Linked DNA regions of Homo sapiens. The protein of the gene in region 1 purifies or fractionates together with the protein of each later gene. This does not show direct contact. Each region holds a gene or a part of one and is shown on either strand. Other genes may lie near its edges.

Region 1 (3,736 bases):
AGTTGATGCTGAAACAAGTTAAGACTTTGGGTGACTATTGGGAAGGGATGACTGTACTTTGCAATGTGAGAAGAACATGACATTTGCGGGGGGGTGGTACTGGTACAATGATATCATCAGGGTATTTTGTCCCCTCCAAATCTCATGTTGCAATGTGATCCCCAATGTTAGAGGTGAGCCTGGTGGGAGGGGTTAGGGTATGGGGGCAAATCCCACATGAATGGCTTGGTGCCATCTGTATAGTAATGAGTGAGTTCCAGCTCTATGAGTTCACACAGGATCTGGTTGTTTAAAAGAGCCTGGAATTTCCTCCCCTGTCTGTCTCTTGCTCCCTCTCTCACCATGTGACACGCTGGCGCCGCTTCCCCCTCTGCCATGACTGTAAGCTTCCTGAGGCCCTCACCAAGAGCAGATGCCGGCACCACACCCCCTTGTACAGACTGCAGAGTGGTGAGCCAAATAAACCTCTTTTCTTTATAAATGACCCAGTCTCAGGTATTCTTTTATAGCAACGCAAACAGACTAACACACAGCACCCTGGGAGTTTTATTCTTCATTTGGTGGTGACTCTTCTATTAGGTTTTTGTCCAAATACTTCCATCCCTAAGAATTTACTGAGGCAGTTCTAAATTAAAGAAAATGTGAGTAACAAAAGATGTTACAGAAGAGCCTTGGGCAGCCTGAGAAACGATGGGCCTAGCGGAAGTAGTTGGGACATTCGTGAGTAACCAAATGCCAGGCTTGATTAAAGGCGTCCACGACAGCCGGCTCCAGGGGCCCTTCCTCTGCCGCTGCCAAGTTCTGCTCCAGCTGCTCCAGGCTGGACATGCCCAGGATGACCGCGTCCCCGTGGGCACCCTGCAAGGGAGACGGCCAGACTTCAACCCTCTTCTGCTGCACAGCGACTCTACTCACAGCCGTCCCAGCCACCTCCCTGCTGAGATTTGGGATCTCTTGTATCCCATATGTCCAGAAAGAACTTAAGGTGCCTTGGATAGCTGTACCCATGTGACGCAAAACCTGTATCCCTTCCCCTACTGCCACACGACGCTTCCAGACAGACCTACATTCACAGCCCAGTTCTGCCCCCCAGCAGCTGTGTAAACGCGGCTAAGTTATTAAACCTCTCTGAGATTCAATCCTCTTTTCTATTTTCAACATGGTTATGGGTGTGAAAAATTATGTAGAGCACTTAGCTCCCATTTATTGAGCACCTACTGTATATATGCCAGACACTATTGCAACATCTAAGGCTGGAGTTGGATATAAGTGAGGAAGACATGAGGCACTGAGAGAGGGAAACTCCAGCTCCCACCAAAAGGATGAGACTAGTGGGCTTTACAGTTAAACCTGTGTTAAAATGTCTGCCCCTTTCATAGCTGGGTGAAACTCAGTTTCCTCGTCAATAACACTGGGATAGTCATTTCATAAAGCTGAAGGAATAATGAAATCCCTGCAATGAAGCTCTCATTACAAAGCCTGGCACTCAGATACCATCAAAGACCAATGAGAAGGCCGAGCGCAGGGGCTCACGCCTATAATCCCAGCACTTTCAGAGGCTGAGGAGGGCGAATTGTCTGAGTTCAGGAATTTGAGACCAGCCTGGGCAACATGGTGAAACCCTGTCTCTACTACAAATACAAACAATTAGCTGGGCATGGTGGCGCACGCCTGTAATCCCAGCTACTGGGGAGGCTGAGACAAGAGAGTTGCTTCGGCCCAAGAGGCAGAAGTTGCAGTGACCCGAGATCATGCCACTGCACTCCAGCCTGGGTGACAGAGTGAGACTCTGTCCCCCCAAAAAAAAAACATAGAAAAAGACCAGTGGGAAGAATGTTTGTGAGAGTTGAAAGAAAGAGAAATTTCAGAGGAATCGATAAACAAATGTTTCAGCCTTCATCTAAAGATATTGCTGGTTCCCCTGGAAGGGAAGAAGCTGAGCGCACAGGGTCACTGGTTACCTGCAGCTGTGAGTGGTGGTACATCCACCGGAGGGTGGCCGAGGTCATGCTGGGGGCGCTGGCGCCATACGCGGCCTGCAGGGCCTTCTCCACCAGGGCAATGCCCTCAAAGTGGTGCTCCTTCCAGTAGCTGGGAAGGGGGGACGGTGGCACAGGTGTCAGGGCCACATTGGGAGCCACAACCAAAGAGCCAACCAGGGCCACTGTCCCACCCCACACCCTGCAGCCCTGAGGGGCAGGTGTTCTCTCTAGCCATGGGTCTCCCACTTTGCTGGGCAAGAGAACCACTCAGGATGCTGGGCCCCTCAGCAGAGACCTCAACAAATCTTTATTCCTGAGGACTCATCAGCCTGCTCTTATTTTCCTTAGGGACACAAAGGCCGCTAAGATGGGTCAGGACTCAGCCCCAGGCCTCCTGGACCTCCCTCCAGAGCTCCTTCTTTCCTTCCTAGCAGGTGATTGCTCAGGAAAGAGCAACGACTTCAAGACCCCGAGGTCCAGGGAGTCTCCTTTCCTCCTGGAGGTCCCAAGACAACAAGAAAACCGATGGAGGGTTTGGAAATTCCCGAAGAAATTCAGGGGAGTAGGTGCAGCAGCGAGGAAAGGCCTTACCCCAGGAGCAGCCCAGGACTTCATTCCACATAAAGCTGACCCCACCCCAGCCATCCACACCAAGCACCCACAGCTTACCGATTCCTGTACATCTCTGCCCAGGTATTCCCAAAGAAGCGGCCCACGGGCTGTTTCCCATTCTTGTCCTCATACTTGTACTTGCCGGTCAGCAGGCCCCCTGAGGGAAAGCAGCAATCAGCCCCGGGGCCTAGAGTGCCCCAGAAGCTGCCACATCCCTCAGGGCTCTGGTCTAGGGGAGGGGCAGGGACCCAGGAGGGCTGAAGATGCAGCCTTTACGTCTTTGACCTCAGAGGTCAAAGTTTGTCAAACCCTCCTTGCTTCCCAGGTCCTGGGCTGGGCATCTGTGGGTCGGGAATAGGCTGAGACAGGGCCAGGAATGCTCCACGTACCAGCCAGAGGGTTGAAGGCATAGAACCTCAGTCCAAAGTGCCTGAGGCAGGGGAAGAGCTCCGTTTCCACCTGCCGGGTGATGGCATTGTACATGCCCTGTAAGGAGAGGGGCCCCGGGGGAGAGGGTGGATGTGTCAAAAGAAGAGACTTCAAAATTACCCTTCCAGAACCCTTATTTCAGACCTTAACAATTCTAGGACTTTAACCGTCTGGGCGTATACTTATTCTAACTGGTGCTGGTGAAAGAAGCTTATGCCCATGGAAAATTCATTCATTCTGCCAACTTTCATGAGCACCAACTATGGGCTGGTTGTCAGATTTAGATTCTTAAGCCAAAAGGACAGGGTCCCTTCCCTCAAGGTTTTATAATAAGGTCAAGTATAAACAGTTATAATCAAGTCATGAGGCAATCATAATAGACTAGAAAGTTCTGTGACCAGTGCCTGGCACCAAGCAGGTGTGCAAATATTTGTGCAATGAATCATGAGGAGGTAAACAAGGACCTGAGGTCTCAGGGTCTTCTGGGCCCATCTAGAAAGGCTTCCAGAGGAAGAGACACGTATGTGAGACCTGAACCATTCTCTCACGGAAGGGGCGGTGGTGGGGGAAGGGCTTGTTCCAGGCTGAGTGCAGGGGAAGGTAGGGAAGGAAGGGTCCAAGGTGCACAGATAGGCAGGAAGGAAGCAGATGCCCAGTGGCCAGCCTGAGGAGCTTGAATGGCATCCTGAGGGTACCTGGGAGCCATCTGCAGG
Region 2 (7,038 bases), on another chromosome or scaffold:
GCACAGGTGCACAGGTCTTAGATATACAGCTCAGTGAAGCTTCAGAAATGCATGCATGCATGTAGCCATGACTCAGATCAAGATACGGAAGAGCCCAGCACTCCACGATGCTCCATCATGCCCCTTTGCAGAAAATACTGCCTCCTCCAGTAAACACTATTCTGATGTCACTATAGATTAGTTTTGCCTCTTCGTGAACTTTGTATAAATAGAACTGAACAATATGAACTGTCCTGTGTGATTTCTTGTATTTCATTATGGGTGGTGTGCTATTGTATCAACAGGGTATTTGGGTGGTTTTCAGATTTGTGATATTAACAATAAAGGAATTATAAATATTGTAGTACATTTTGGGGGTGTCTGGGTACTCATTTTCTGGATATATACCTAGGAAGTGAACTGTTGTGTTATAGAGTAATTGTGTGTTTAGCCTTATAGATTCTGCCAAACAGTTTTCCAAAGTGATTCCAGCAGTTGACAATCAGCAGAGTATGAGAGTTTCAGTTTTCTCCTCTTGATAATTCTCCTCTCGATAGTGTCAGTCTTTTTTTTTCCTTTTTTTTTGTTAGTGTCAATCTTTATTTGAGCCTTTTTGTTGAGTGTCGCAGTATCGCATTTTAGTTTCAATTTGCATTTCCTTGATGATTAATGAGATTGAACAGTTTATTGACTTTTTTTTTTTTTTTTTGGTTTTCTTTGTTTCTTTTGGAGAAGGGCTTGTGAAGGTCTTTTGCCCTTTTAAAAATTAGATTGAAGGAATTTTTTACATACTTTGAATATAAGCCCTTTGTCAGATATATGGATTCTGAATATCTGCTCCCAGTCTATGACCTTCATTTTTATTCTCTTACTTTTGTCTTTTGATGAACAGAAATTTTTAATTTTAGTGAAGTCTAATATCTCAGTCTTCTCTTTTATGAGTAGTGCCTTTTGTATCCATTTAAGGAATCTTGGCCTACCCCAAAGTCATATATATATGCTTATATATTTTCTTCTAGATGTTTAATGTTTACTTTTTACATTTAGGCCTATCATCTATTTTGAATTATTTTTGTATATGCTATGACTTATGGGTCAAGCTTCAGGTTTTTCTCATGTGGTATATCCAGTTAGTTAAACAGCATCAATTCAAAAGGCTATCCTTTCCTCAGCAAATTGCAGTGGTGTCTTTGATATAAATATACAATACATATATATATACACACACACACACACACACACACACACAATGTGTATCTGTATATACAATCAGGTGATTGTATATATGTTGTTTTGTTTGGGGAATTAAGTTTCATTTACATATTTGTCTTTTTGTCTTCCCTTATATCAATACTATTTCACCTCAGTTACTAAAGCTTTATAGTAAGTCTTCAAATTAGGTGGTATAATTCTTCCAACTTTGTTTTTCTCAATATTTATTTAAGTTACTGATTTCTCTGAGCAGTATCTTTTATTTTCAGGGAGAAGACCTCACATGCCATTCGTTAAAATTATTCTTAGATATTGATGGTTTGGGAAGCTATTTTTAAAATTTCAATTTAAGCTTTATGGCATGTAACGAAAAATATTTTCCCCACGACCCCAAAAGTTTTATCTTTAAGCTAGCAAAGCAGTAGTGTCATTATTTTAAATAGCCAACAGTACCTTCATTTTATGAGATGATTGAGAATTTGTGAAAATCAGTAGTATTTATCAACAAAAGTGGCTAGTTTTGTGTGCTGCTTCTTTAAAAAACTCATTTAAAAGATAGCATACTGGAAATATGTACTTGCTGCCTTTATGGAAAGCAAGTCTAATTCCTTTATTATGTAAAGAACTCTAGCAACTCAATACCAAATAGAAATACCTTATGGATTAAGAAGAATAACATGATGTATAAGTGGTGTAAATTTATATAATTATTATAAATTATTATAAATGTATAATAAAATAACTAGAATTTCACCAAATTAGAAATTTAATGGAAATAAAATACACATTGGATTTGGGTGAAAAAAACATGTTGAGCTTAACATGTTAATGTTAAATGGGACAGAAATACAATGTGCTGCCTACTTTTGAATTAAATGCTAAATAGCAGTATTATACATTTTGGGAAAATATTCAAAAAATAAAATACCCTAGAATGGAGTTTCTTGGCAGCTCTGTACTAATTTTAATAGTTCTTGAATCTCCTTTTTCACCTTAGAAATTTTAGTCACACTTTAAAAATCTGGGCAAAATATATGTCCAGCAAACAGCCAAGAGCCAGATGTATTAAATGATCATATTTACGCTCCCAAAAGAAAATTCAAAATGAAGCATGTTGATAAACATTTTGGATGTGATGTTGGAGAACAATTGCAACCTGCCCAGATGTTCAGCTCGCCCGAAGGCTGCCTCCTTGGTGACTTGTTTCATCTTGAGTCTAGAGAGTCCAGGCTGGGGAAGAAAACCACCTCCAGCCGGCCGTTCCAGCACAGCCCCACTGGCCAAAGCACACACTCACACAATGAAAACACTGAAACTTTTTCTTAAAACAAATTTTTCTCCCATTGTCATGGTTCTGTATATTAACACAAAATTTTCTTTTCTCATAGGAGAGATTATTTCATTCAATATTTTTTATGAATTATTTACCATTTGTACTTCAATAGTAGCAGAAGACAAAAAAGGTAATTGTGCGCTGAGGGAGGGTGGGCAGCATGAAGCACTACATAAAGAAAAATCTTCTAAATGAAATTAGAACTTCTGAAATTTGGGCTTGCTATGTAAATTCTGTGTATGTTGCATACAGCTTTTTATTTCTTGGTAAAATTTTGTGATTGTACTGAAAATTTTCCTTATTTTCAGACTACTGTACTGCCTATTAAAGTTGATTTCAGACATGCAAAAAACCTGGAAGAAATGTTGCAGGGCTAGAAACATTCTTCTCTTCCTCATAGTTTACTTCTACCCATCTACATGCTTTGATGGAAGTGCTCGCAGGAGGTGCTTCCTTATCTTCGTGTATGTCATGACATCTGTCCTTTTCTTGAGGCCCAGAACACACATTCTCCCATCCTTTCCCAGCCAGGCAACCCAATGGATACCAGCCTCACTTTCCCGTATTTTTCCTGACTGGTTCCCAGAGTACAAAGCACAGGACAACTTCGCTAACTCACCCTGATCTTTGACCTATACTCTGGGTATAAATCTGCCTGTACCTTACCCTTGAGATGTCCTGCTCTAGGGGATGATGCCTGAAGGGAAACATTTGATGAATCACAGTAATTGAGGCTCCGATTTCTGTGTCCTGGTAGAACCATGTGATAGTGAACCAAAACATGACCATTGATTCCTTTTCCCATATTCTGATCTTACCTGGAAACCCGTGCTCTCAGATTTTGTGGGGTTATCTGGCAGATAGACGGTGACAACAGTCCCATCTGGTGAAGGCTTAGGATATTAGGATGTTTCTTACTTCTTATTGTTTGAAGAAACAGTTGTGAATAAAAATTAATCAAAATTAGAGGCCAGGCACAGTGGCTTACACCTGTAATGCCAGCACTTTGCGAGGCCGAGGCGGGCGAATCATCTGAGGTTGGGAGTTTGACACCAGACTGGCCAACATGGTAAAACCCCTTCTCTACTAAAAGAAAAATACAAAAAAAAAAAAAAAGTAGCCAGGTGCGGTCGCACATGTCTGTAATCCCAACTACGTGGAAGGCTGAGGCACAAGAATTGCTTGAACCTGGGAGGCAGAGGTCGCAGTGAGCTGAGATCGCACCACTGCACTCCAGTCTGGCCAACAGAACGAGACTCTGTCTCAAAAATAAATTAATTAATCAAAATTAATTGTCCAGCTTTGATTTAGAATCTTAACTGCTATTACACGTCTCTTCTGTCTACCTTCAAATAGGTCATCTAATACATGGGAGAAACATGGATTTTGGAGTATTTCTTGGGTAAGTAAAGAACAAAGGGTCAGGCATGGTGGTTCACGCCTGTAATCCCAGCTTTTTGGGAGGCTGACACGGGTGGATCACGAGGTCAGGAGTTCAAGACCAGCCTGGCCAAGATGGTGAAACCCCGTCTCTACTAAAAACATAAAAATTAGCCAGGCATGGTGGTGGGCATCTGTAATCCCGGCTACTTGGGAGCCTGAGGCAGAGACTTTTTTGAACCTGCGAGGCGGAGGTTGCAGTGAGCCGAGATCGCGCCACTGCACTGCAGCTTGGGATACAGAGCCAGACTCCATCTCAAAAAAAAAAAAAAAAAAAAGAACACAGAACTGTTTTGGTCTGTAGGAAGAGTAGGTTGTGTTATATTGATGATAAGTAAGTCCCAAGTCACACCCAAAATGTGATCATAAGTGAAGATAAATGGATTGCTTGAGTGCTGAGACAAGAGGGACATGCTCTTCTATTTTATGTGTCCATCTTGACCTTTCTGAAAAAATAAGAATATTGTAATTAGCATTCTATGTTTGAATCTGAGGCTCACTATTTATAAGCTGTGTGATATTGAGAGAGTTACCTGACTTCTCTGAACCTCAATTTTATCATTTGGAAAACAGAATAAATATACCATATTGTAAAGGTCTTGTTAGGATTGATCGTGGTGACTCGGTAAATAAAGCTCCTAGTGTAATGCCTGGCCCTCATCATCATGTTGATCATTACTATCACTGTGTTTCTGAAATGTCACTGAAACATGTCTTTTATAGGTGGAACATAAATAATGATACCTGGGTCATAACTGAGCAACTAAAACCTTTAACAGTGAATTTGGATTTCCAAAGAAACAACAAAACTGTCTTCAAGGCTTCAAGCTTTGCTGGCTATGTGGGCATGTTAACAGGATTCAAACCAGTAAGGAGTCTGTTGTTACATAATTATACAGGTAGCCTTCTGTCCTGTTACCGTTATGTAAAAGTTGAAATCTAAGAATATGAGGACCTAAAGGGAATATGAAGCCCCATTTCACCCCCTTGTACTTCTTGTCACTTCATAGGTATGAGATCTCGTGGTAGAGAAGAGTAGAAAGGAAACGGAGGTTTCTGAGCCTCTTCTGGGATAAAGAGCATGTGGCTGGGTGTCAAGGGCTGGGAGTCACAATCTGATTTCTAGTCCTGGGTCTTCCGCTCACTTAGGCAAGTCAGGCGTTCATTCTCTGCCCTTCAGTTTCCTGTCCAAAAAGCGTTGCCAGTGATACCCCACCTACTTATCTCACATACTAGAATCAAAAATGCTTTGAACTTTTTAAAAAGCCTTTTATGGTTTTGATTTATTTTTGCCTTCCCCATTACCCAAGCTAGGCCTTTATATCCCACTCTGAAGTACAGTGAGCGACAGGGCCTTAAAGCGCATGGTTGATGTTTCTGACTTCGTTGCTTTGTCTTTTTCTCAGGGACTGTTCAGTCTTACACTGAATGAACGTTTCAGTATAAATGGTGGTTATCTGGGTAAGTAGAGCATTCTCAAGTGAAATGGGAATCTCAGAGCTTTTTTATGAGGAAGGCTGGACTGTGCCTTCTGGTTACAAAGTCCAACCTCTTCCGGTTCCCGACTGGTTACAAAGTCTAACCTCTTCTGGTTCCTGACTGGTTATATAGTCCAGCCTCTTCCGGGTCCTGACTGGTTACATAGTGTCACCTCTTCCGGTTCCTGACATTGTGTTCATCTCTTCCAGGTATTCTAGAATGGATTCTGGGAAAGAAAGATGTCATGTGGATAGGGTTCCTCACTAGAACAGTTCTGGAAAATAGCACAAGGTAAAGTGTTTCGTTGCTTTACTATTAAATATTTATTTTAAATTACTCATATTAAAAAATAAAAATATTTGTCAAGCTCCAGCTTAATCCTTTGAGGAACTATTGCAGAATTTCTTAGGTGAACCTCTGACACTCATGTGGAATTACTCATGTTTTCTTCGTGCAGACTGTGTGTTTTATAGCAAATAAATGAATTACTTAAAAAGCACTAGGGATACTGACATTATGAAAGGCACCTATGAATATTTTTGGTGTACAGAAAAAAAATGACCCACACACAAAAGAACAGTCATACAGTAAAATCTTCATTTAAATGGTAGTACAGACCAGGCACAGTGGCTTATGCCTGTAATCCTCACGCTTTGGGTGGCTGAGATAGACAGATGACTTGCACCCAGGGGTTTGAGACCAGTCTGAGCAACATGGCGAAACCCCGTCTCTATAAAAAATACAAAAATTAGCCAGGCATGGTGACACGTGCCTGCCTGTAGTCCCAGCTACTCAGGAGGCTGAGGTGGGAGGATCACCTGAGCCCAAGGAGGTCGAGACTGCAGTGAGCTGGGATCAGTCCACTGCACTTCACCCTGAGTGATAGAGTGAGACTCTGTCTTAAAAAAACAAAATAAATAAATACAAAATGTACTACATATTAACCTGTAAGTTATATCTTGCCTTGGTATAGAAATCTTACAATAGCAAAACTGCCTTTCCTTCATTCAGCCAGCACTGCGTCCAAATAAATGGGCATCAATCCTATTTTTAATACTTCCCAGGGAATAAGATTTAATGTTAGTAGTGTTCTTTGATAACCCACTTCAATTTTTAATAGTCCTAATTTTCAAGAAGGTTTACTTTCTGTTCTCTAAGTCCTACATACTGTAATATTATTTCCCTTTGTTCTGTTGTTGAGTGAAAGGCATGGACAGTAAGGGTGGAAGATGATCTCTTGAGGCCACTTTGTTTCTCCTTCAGATTAGAGGGGCTTCCTAAGATTCCCGCTTCCCATCTCAGTGTTCACCATACAGGGTCAGGGATTGCTTTTCCCAGAGGCATTGCTCACCATCCTTTTTTAGAAAACACATTGTGGCTGGCCATGGTGGCTCATGCCTGTAATCCCAGTACTTTGGGAGGCGAAGGCAAGAGTATCGCTTGTGCCAAGGAGTTCGAGACCAGCCTGGGCAACAGAGTGAGAGCCCATCTCTAAAAATAGAAATAAATAAATAACACATTCCTTAGATACTTGTTTTTCTTTAGTTTCTACAGAGCTAAACATTTCCGTTCTAAGTCATCTAAAAATGTTTCCC
Region 3 (7,038 bases), on another chromosome or scaffold:
TTATCCTCAGTGTTTCTAGACTTTATCATTGGCATCCACTTTTTTTTTCTTTTCTTTCATTTCTTTTTTCTTTATACTGTTGGAAAATTTTCTGTCATCAGATTTGAAAATTAAACTGTATTTTTAACTAGCATCTTAAATATCAAACAGCTTGTGTTATCTTTAAGCTGCTTTTTCTTCCTGAACATTTTGGCAGATTGCTGAAAACTTTCTGTAGAAATTATATTTGCTAATGCAATGCAAATAAGAATTTACATATATCTAGTTTTATTAACATGGTTAGCGATGTTTTATATCATCATATGTAATTGTTGTATTACGGAATTGGACACAACCCAATATTTAGTTAACTTCATCCTATTGAGAACTACCTGCAGCCTTTAATCTTTTACAGTGAAGGTCGTTAACAGGCCTTATTATGAAATAAAAATGACTAGAAAACAGAAACATAACTTTTAAAAAACTCTTTTTGAATAATTGCTTGTTAGGTTTAAAATAGCCACTGGAGTACTAAGAACTTGTATGCTTCTTTCATAACTCTTCTAATTCATATATTTGATTAATGGCACAATTAACAGTTGTATAATATAATTTTTAATTGCTTTTTATTATCTATATATTTTGTGTAGCTGAGGTATACCTTAAGTGATAGCTAAGTGAGATTAATATTATTGTAGAAGCCTTTTCTCTGTAAATTCAATAGAAAAGGAAGAAATCATTTGCAAAGGAAAAAAATTACAATTTAACTGTATCAGAATGAAGATAGACTTTTATAAAAGCATAGATTCAAAACCAACTTAAATTCAAATTTTTCTGTGTTAGAAGGGATTGAAAGTTAATTTATTATTAACATGAAATATTTTGAGCATGCGACAAAAAGGTGAAAAATATAACAAGTACCTAGGAATATGCCTTATTAGACCTCAACATTTTGGGTAAGTTAGTTACTAAAATTGTGTGTGTGTGTCCATACGTGCGCACGCACATGCATGACAGAGTATCACTCTGTTGTCCATGCTGGAGTGCGGTGACATGATCTTGGCTCATTTTAGTCTCAAGTTCCAGGGCTCAGGTGATCCTCCCACCTCAGCCTCCCAAGTAGCTGGGGCTATGGGTGTGTGCCACCATGCCTGGCTGATTTTTTGCCTTTTTTGTAGAGACAAGGTTTTACTATGTTGCCCAGGCTGGTCTTGAACTCCTGGGCTCCAGTGATCCACCCACCTCGGCCTCCCAAGATGCTGGGATTACAGGCGTTAACCACTGTGCCTGGCCAGCTAATTGTTAATAACATTTTTATTTGGTCATTAGTCTTTTTGTATTATGGAGAAGACATTGGGAATAATTGGCTTTTCTGCAGCTTTTTACCCATTTATCTAAAATAACCGATTCATTTATACTTTGCAAAACATAGGCAATAATCAGTGGAGTGTGCATAAAGAACTAGTAAAATGACTGTATGTATTCCTGTGTGAACTAAGTTCTTTACTGAGGTTAGTACCAATCATTTATTTCCTAGGTCTATATTTGAACTATGGGGTCATGGACAATCTCCTGAGGAGCTGTACAGTTCTCTTAAAAACTACCCTGTGGAGAAGATGGTGCGTAGTAAAATGTGGTTTTATATAGGCATGCGTGCAGATTCTGTAGAATTAAAATACTCAAAAAACTGATTTCCTTTTATTTTAGGTTCCATTTCTACATTCGGACTCTACATATAAAATAAAGATTCACACTTTTAATAAGACATTGACACAAGAAGAGAAAATCAAGCGAATAGATGTAAGTAAATTTAGCAAAACAAAAAACCTACATGATGAATGCAGTCTGGCCATTGTTGATATATAGGAATACCTAATGTCTGTGAAGTGTTTATTTTGTACCACATTTTGTGCTAAGTGCTTTTCATGTTTTATTTAATGTTGACTCCAGGCTTACAAGGTAATGTTATTAGATAAGCGCCATTTTTCATTGTAAATTATTATAAGACATCAGCATTTCTTTTGTTTCTTTTAGGCACTTGAATTTCTGCCATTTGAAGGAAAAGTGAATTTAAAGAAACCGCAACATGTATTTTCTGTTTTGGAGGATTATGGTTTAGACCCAAACTGCATCCCTGAGAATCCACATAATATTTATTTTGGTAGATGGGTGAGCAAGTTTTCTTTCTACCTATGTCAGTTTGTTTTTTTGAAAGCTACTTATTAGGCCTTTTGTTGACTCCTATGTAGAACTTTAAAGCAGCTGAAGAGTCAGAACTACTGAATGGATTAAAATTGGTGAAGAGTATGTGATTATGTTTTGTTTTGTGTTTTCCCAGAGATTCTTAAATGAAGTGCAAGAGGCTTGTTAGATATAGGGAGGAGTTGGTATACCTGGAAATGTTGAAACAAGACTTACCAGAACATCTGGACTGTTTTTTTTTTTTTTGTTTGTTTCTTTTTTTTTATAAAGCAGAGAAAACACAGAGTGCTGTGGTAGTTGAGGAATCTCATTTGTGGAGATTCCCAATCTGGGCCTTCCATTCCAAAAGAAATGGAATTACTGTAAAGCAGTTCTGCCGACTTCTCTGAGGCTTTAAATGGGTGATTGGAAGCTGTGAGTGGAAGTTGTGACTTATGTTAGAGATTATTGTTATGTAGGAGAACAAAGAAATGGGCATACCTTAACACCTACCTCTGGAGTAATTGCATTCAAATGCAGTTCATACTTGTTTTGAAAAGAAAAAGTAAATGGAATGACATTAAGCAATAAAAGGCTTTGTTCATAACTACCTCAATTACATTATTTTAAATAAATAAGTTTAGAGCAGTAATAAGTGGAAAGAAGTTCTTATCAGCAAAATACAATGGTCTTATTGTGAGTGATTATCTTAAGTCTATTCTGTATGGCTATACTAACATAAGAAATATCTCTGATTTAGATTGCAGATGGACAGAGAGAGCTTATTGAGTCATACAGTGTCAAAAAGAGACACTTTATTGGAAATACAAGTATGGATGCTGGTTTGTCATTCATTATGGCTAACCATGGAAAAGTGAAAGAAAATGATATTGTCTTTGATCCATTTGTTGGAACAGGTATTTTTATTTAACTTTTAAGCTAGTGTAGAGATGTTGCTTATTTATATTAATGAAGGTCATGGTAATATTTTTGCTAAAAGAGTAAATGGATAATCTTTTAATTGTGTTTGGATAGTGGCCAACAGACAACCACATACTTGTGTAATAGCTAGTATTTAACACTTATGCCACTTCAAAGATGATGCTGATAGAATTGTATGGGTTTTATTCCAGATAAACCACTAGGAGGGAGCATCCATCTAATTTTTTTGTAGCAGAAAAACTTGCAATACCATACATTGTAGAAATGTTGTAAAGCTGTATAGTTTATTTAAATAGGAAAACTCTTGGTGAAAGAAAGACTTGGATGACAAGATCAAAAAAATGTATTCATCCAGTTTAAATGTACTCATACAGTTTAAATTCATAACTGTATATGTGGATGGAGAAAATAGTTAATATATCCTATCTTTGAGTTGGTTTATGGAGGTTTATAAGTAAGTGTGAAATAAGAAAAGTGTCAAAGTATCAATGGGCTAGATAGCCTGGTCACTGTGGCAGTGACCTTGGTTTTTTGTGCATATGATTGGGATAATTTTTTATGGAAGTCCTAAAACTCCATCTGACTCTGTGCAGACTTTTTCCTACTTCCACTCAATTTTGCTGGATCTTGCCCATACCCAGCAAATACTTGTATTTAAATTTGTTTGACCAAGCTCATTGTGGCTCATTTTGTGGTTGGAGCCTGTCCCTGTAGCCATCTTTCCCCTTGGGCAGTGATGATGCAGAGCTAACGTTTATTGAATAGTAAATGTATCAGGTACTATGCTATGCATTCTGATGCTACTATCTAGTTTAATTCTTACAACAACTAACATGGAGATACTTTAAAAATTTGCTTGAGGAAATTATGGCAGAGAGAAAGGTGCAGTGACTTGGCCAAGGTTATACAGTATATTGGTTTCATAGGATTCAAACTCAAGCAGTCCAACTCCAGAGCTCATGCCCTTAACTTTGAGCTGCCTCTCTCTGCATTGGGATCTGCCAACCAGCTATTACACCATGTACTAACTTAAGGAATATGACCACATATGCTTAGGAAGAAGTAGTATCAAGGTCAATAAATTTCTAATTGATGGAATAACTTTCTCTGTTTATTGTTGAGTTAATTCACTGGTGAGTCTTTCTTCTCTGCCAGTTTCTCCATATCACCTACCCTCAGCATACTCTATATTCTTTTCTTCCCCACTCTCATTATCCTAAGTAACTCACCCCAAATTTTAAACTTTTTATTGGAAATAATATCAAACTTTCAGAAAAGCTACAAGAATAAAAGTAGGACAAAGAACATGCATGTATCCTTAACTTAGCTGTTGTTAACATTTGGCCTCATTTGTTTTATCATTTGTTCTATTTGTTTCTATTTACATAATCTTTTCTTTCCTGCATCATTTGAAAGTTGTATCCATCACATCCCTTTACCCTTCAAGTAATTATTTCTCAAGAATGAGGATATATTCTTCTACATAACCACAGTACTGTTTTCAGTGTTAATAGATGTATTAATACAGTACTTTGATATTCATATTTCAGTCTTGCCAGTTTACCCAGTAATATTAATATTTTTGACAGCATCCTTTTCCCTTTCCTGGCTAGGATCAGGTATTATATTTTGTTGTTAATATTTCTTTGATGTCTTTGATTTGGAACACAGCCAAAGTCTTTTTTTCTTTTATGAAATTTGCACTTTTCAAGATGCTATTTCTCTTCCCTTTATTTTTTATCTAATTTTTTCCTCATTTTGGGTTGTTTGATGTCTCCTCAAGATTAGGATTAGGTTATACATTCCCAGCTGGACCACTACATCAGTGACTTTTGTGGCCTTCTCAGGGGTGTGTACATGATGGCCTTCTGCCCTGCATTGGTATTGGTAATTTTTGATCATCTGGTCTAGGTTGTGTTTGATTTTTTTCTGTTCATAATCATAAACAGTACAATTACTGGTGGTTTTATTTTATTTTATTTTTTTTCTTGCTATTAAGCAATCTGTGGAGAGACACATTAAGGCCATGTAGTATTCTATTCCTTATCCAGTCTCCTCTCACCACTCAGGTCGTCAGGTTTAGTAGCCATTGATAATTCTTTCCTGAACCAGTTTTTACTTTGATGGTTTCAAAGGGATGATTTTCCAACTCCAGTGCTCCCTCCACAGTTACAAGTCGACATTCATTATTCTACTGTAAGCAAAAGCCCTTTCCTCTCTTCCATGTATTTGTTTTTCTATTTGTTATTAATATGAACTAATGGGTTCTCCTTTTTAACCCCGATGGTCTATAATTCATTATATTTCTTAATTTTCTTAATTACTTTTGTTCCTCAAATTGTGATTTGCCCAGTGAGAGCTCTTTCACATTGAATCTGTCTTTGTGACATGTTCCTATCCTTTTTTCTTTGGAGTACTTCCTTACTTTCTCTTCTATTTGTTCAAGCTCTGGTATCAGTCATTTTTCCAAGGAATTTTTGTTTCTTTTAGCAGGGAAATGAAATCTGGATTATAGATCCTTTCAGTGGACAAACTAGAAAATATATATGCATATATACACAATATGCATGTAAGTGCATGTGCAAATATACATGTATTTATTCTTATATACTGTGCGTATGCACATACACATGCATATACGTATTTTAGACACTGTGAATTTGCACATATACTATAAATTGCAGTCAATCCTTACAGATTTCCTTTTGACTACCCTATTCTATGTTTATGTGTACCTTCTTCCACAGTGAGAACCCTGATTCCTAGCTACATCAACACATTTACTCTTTTCCTCATTCCTATATCTGAAATGGTTTCACAGTTGTTTTGCTTATGCCACTTAAAAATATCCTGTGAATAAGAGTTCAGGATGTGTTTTCAGTTCTTCACCCTAAGGGGCAGTAAAGTCAAATACTGTGCCTGCTTTTTCCCTTTTCATTTAAAATTCATTTGGGTTCATTTGTTCCAGTTTGCCCTCTGTTTTAGGTTTTTATCTCCTATCCCCCACTCCTTATTGATTTACTTTTATTTTCAAATATGTATAAGATGAACTTGCTTCCAAAAGTCAGAACTACACAAGAAGTGGTACTCAAAGAGATGTCACTTTACCTTTATAACGCTTCCAGCCTGTTCTCCCACCTATCCTAGGTGACTAACTTCATTGTTTTCTAGTTGATTCTTCCTGTTTCTTTTTGTAATGATAATACATTTTCTGATTCATAATGGAATATATACATTTTCTTATTTTCGCTACTTTCTTACACAAAAGGTATCATACTGTGTGTGTTGGTTTTAACTTTGCTTTTTTCACTTAATGGTATTTCCTGGAAATCACTTCCTGTCAGTTCATGGAGCTTATCTTTATTCTGTTTTAGTTTTGCTTCATGAGTGTATGTACCGTAATTTATTCAAACAATCTCCTATAGTTGGACATCGGTAGTTTTCAGTATTTTACAGTTACAAATAATGCTTGAAATGACTAACCTTATGAATATATACCTTTGTAATGTTGGAGATGTAGCTCTAGGGCAAGCTTATCCAACCCGCAGCCCATGGACCACATGTGGCCCAGATGGCTTTGAATGTGGCCTGATACAAACTTGTAAAGTTTCTTAAAACGTTATGAGAATTTTTGCAATTTTTTTTAGCTCACCAGCTATCATTAGTGTTAGTGTATTTTATGTACAGCCCAAGACAATTCTTCTTCGAATGTGGCCCAGGAAAGCCAAAAGATTGGACCCCTCTGTCCTAGGGTAAATTCTTACAAGTAGGATTTCTGGGTTGAAGAGTGTATGCATATGCAGTTTCATTAGATACTGCCAAATTTGTCTCCATTATACTATTTTGGATTCCTACCAACAGTTGTAGGAGAGTCCCTGTTTTTCCACAGTCTCACCAGCAGAGTATATTTCAGGCTTTTGAAGTTTTGCTTGTTCT

The links. Proteins that work in one complex are often made in the same cells at the same time.
Region 2: the proteins of AKR7A3 (region 1) and ASAH1 purify together in Homo sapiens (co-immunoprecipitation; 2 studies listed by BioGRID and IntAct, with this or other methods). This does not show direct contact.
Region 3: the proteins of AKR7A3 (region 1) and TRMT11 purify together in Homo sapiens (affinity purification with mass spectrometry; 2 studies listed by BioGRID and IntAct, with this or other methods). This does not show direct contact.

Annotation. Positions count from the first base shown.
Region 1 is NC_000001.11:19,282,035-19,285,770, forward strand, and holds the end of AKR7A3 (aldo-keto reductase family 7 member A3), read right to left. Parts: intron 3,081-3,736; coding exon 2,984-3,080; intron 2,752-2,983; coding exon 2,652-2,751; intron 2,092-2,651; coding exon 1,962-2,091; intron 859-1,961; coding exon 697-858; 3' UTR 539-696; downstream 1-538. UniProt on the Homo sapiens protein: Catalyzes the NADPH-dependent reduction of various carbonyl-containing compounds, including aldehydes, ketones, and toxic products from cellular metabolism or environmental exposure.
Region 2 is NC_000008.11:18,060,073-18,067,110, reverse strand, and holds part of ASAH1 (acid ceramidase isoform a preproprotein), read left to right. Parts: intron 1-2,579; coding exon 2,580-2,654; intron 2,655-3,880; coding exon 3,881-3,926; intron 3,927-4,687; coding exon 4,688-4,832; intron 4,833-5,370; coding exon 5,371-5,425; intron 5,426-5,652; coding exon 5,653-5,734; intron 5,735-7,038. UniProt on the Homo sapiens protein: Lysosomal ceramidase that hydrolyzes sphingolipid ceramides into sphingosine and free fatty acids at acidic pH.
Region 3 is NC_000006.12:125,996,537-126,003,574, forward strand, and holds part of TRMT11 (tRNA (guanine(10)-N(2))-methyltransferase TRMT11), read left to right. Parts: intron 1-1,516; coding exon 1,517-1,598; intron 1,599-1,686; coding exon 1,687-1,779; intron 1,780-2,013; coding exon 2,014-2,148; intron 2,149-2,920; coding exon 2,921-3,077; intron 3,078-7,038. UniProt on the Homo sapiens protein: Catalytic subunit of the TRMT11-TRM112 methyltransferase complex, that specifically mediates the S-adenosyl-L-methionine-dependent N(2)-methylation of guanosine nucleotide at position 10 (m2G10) in tRNAs.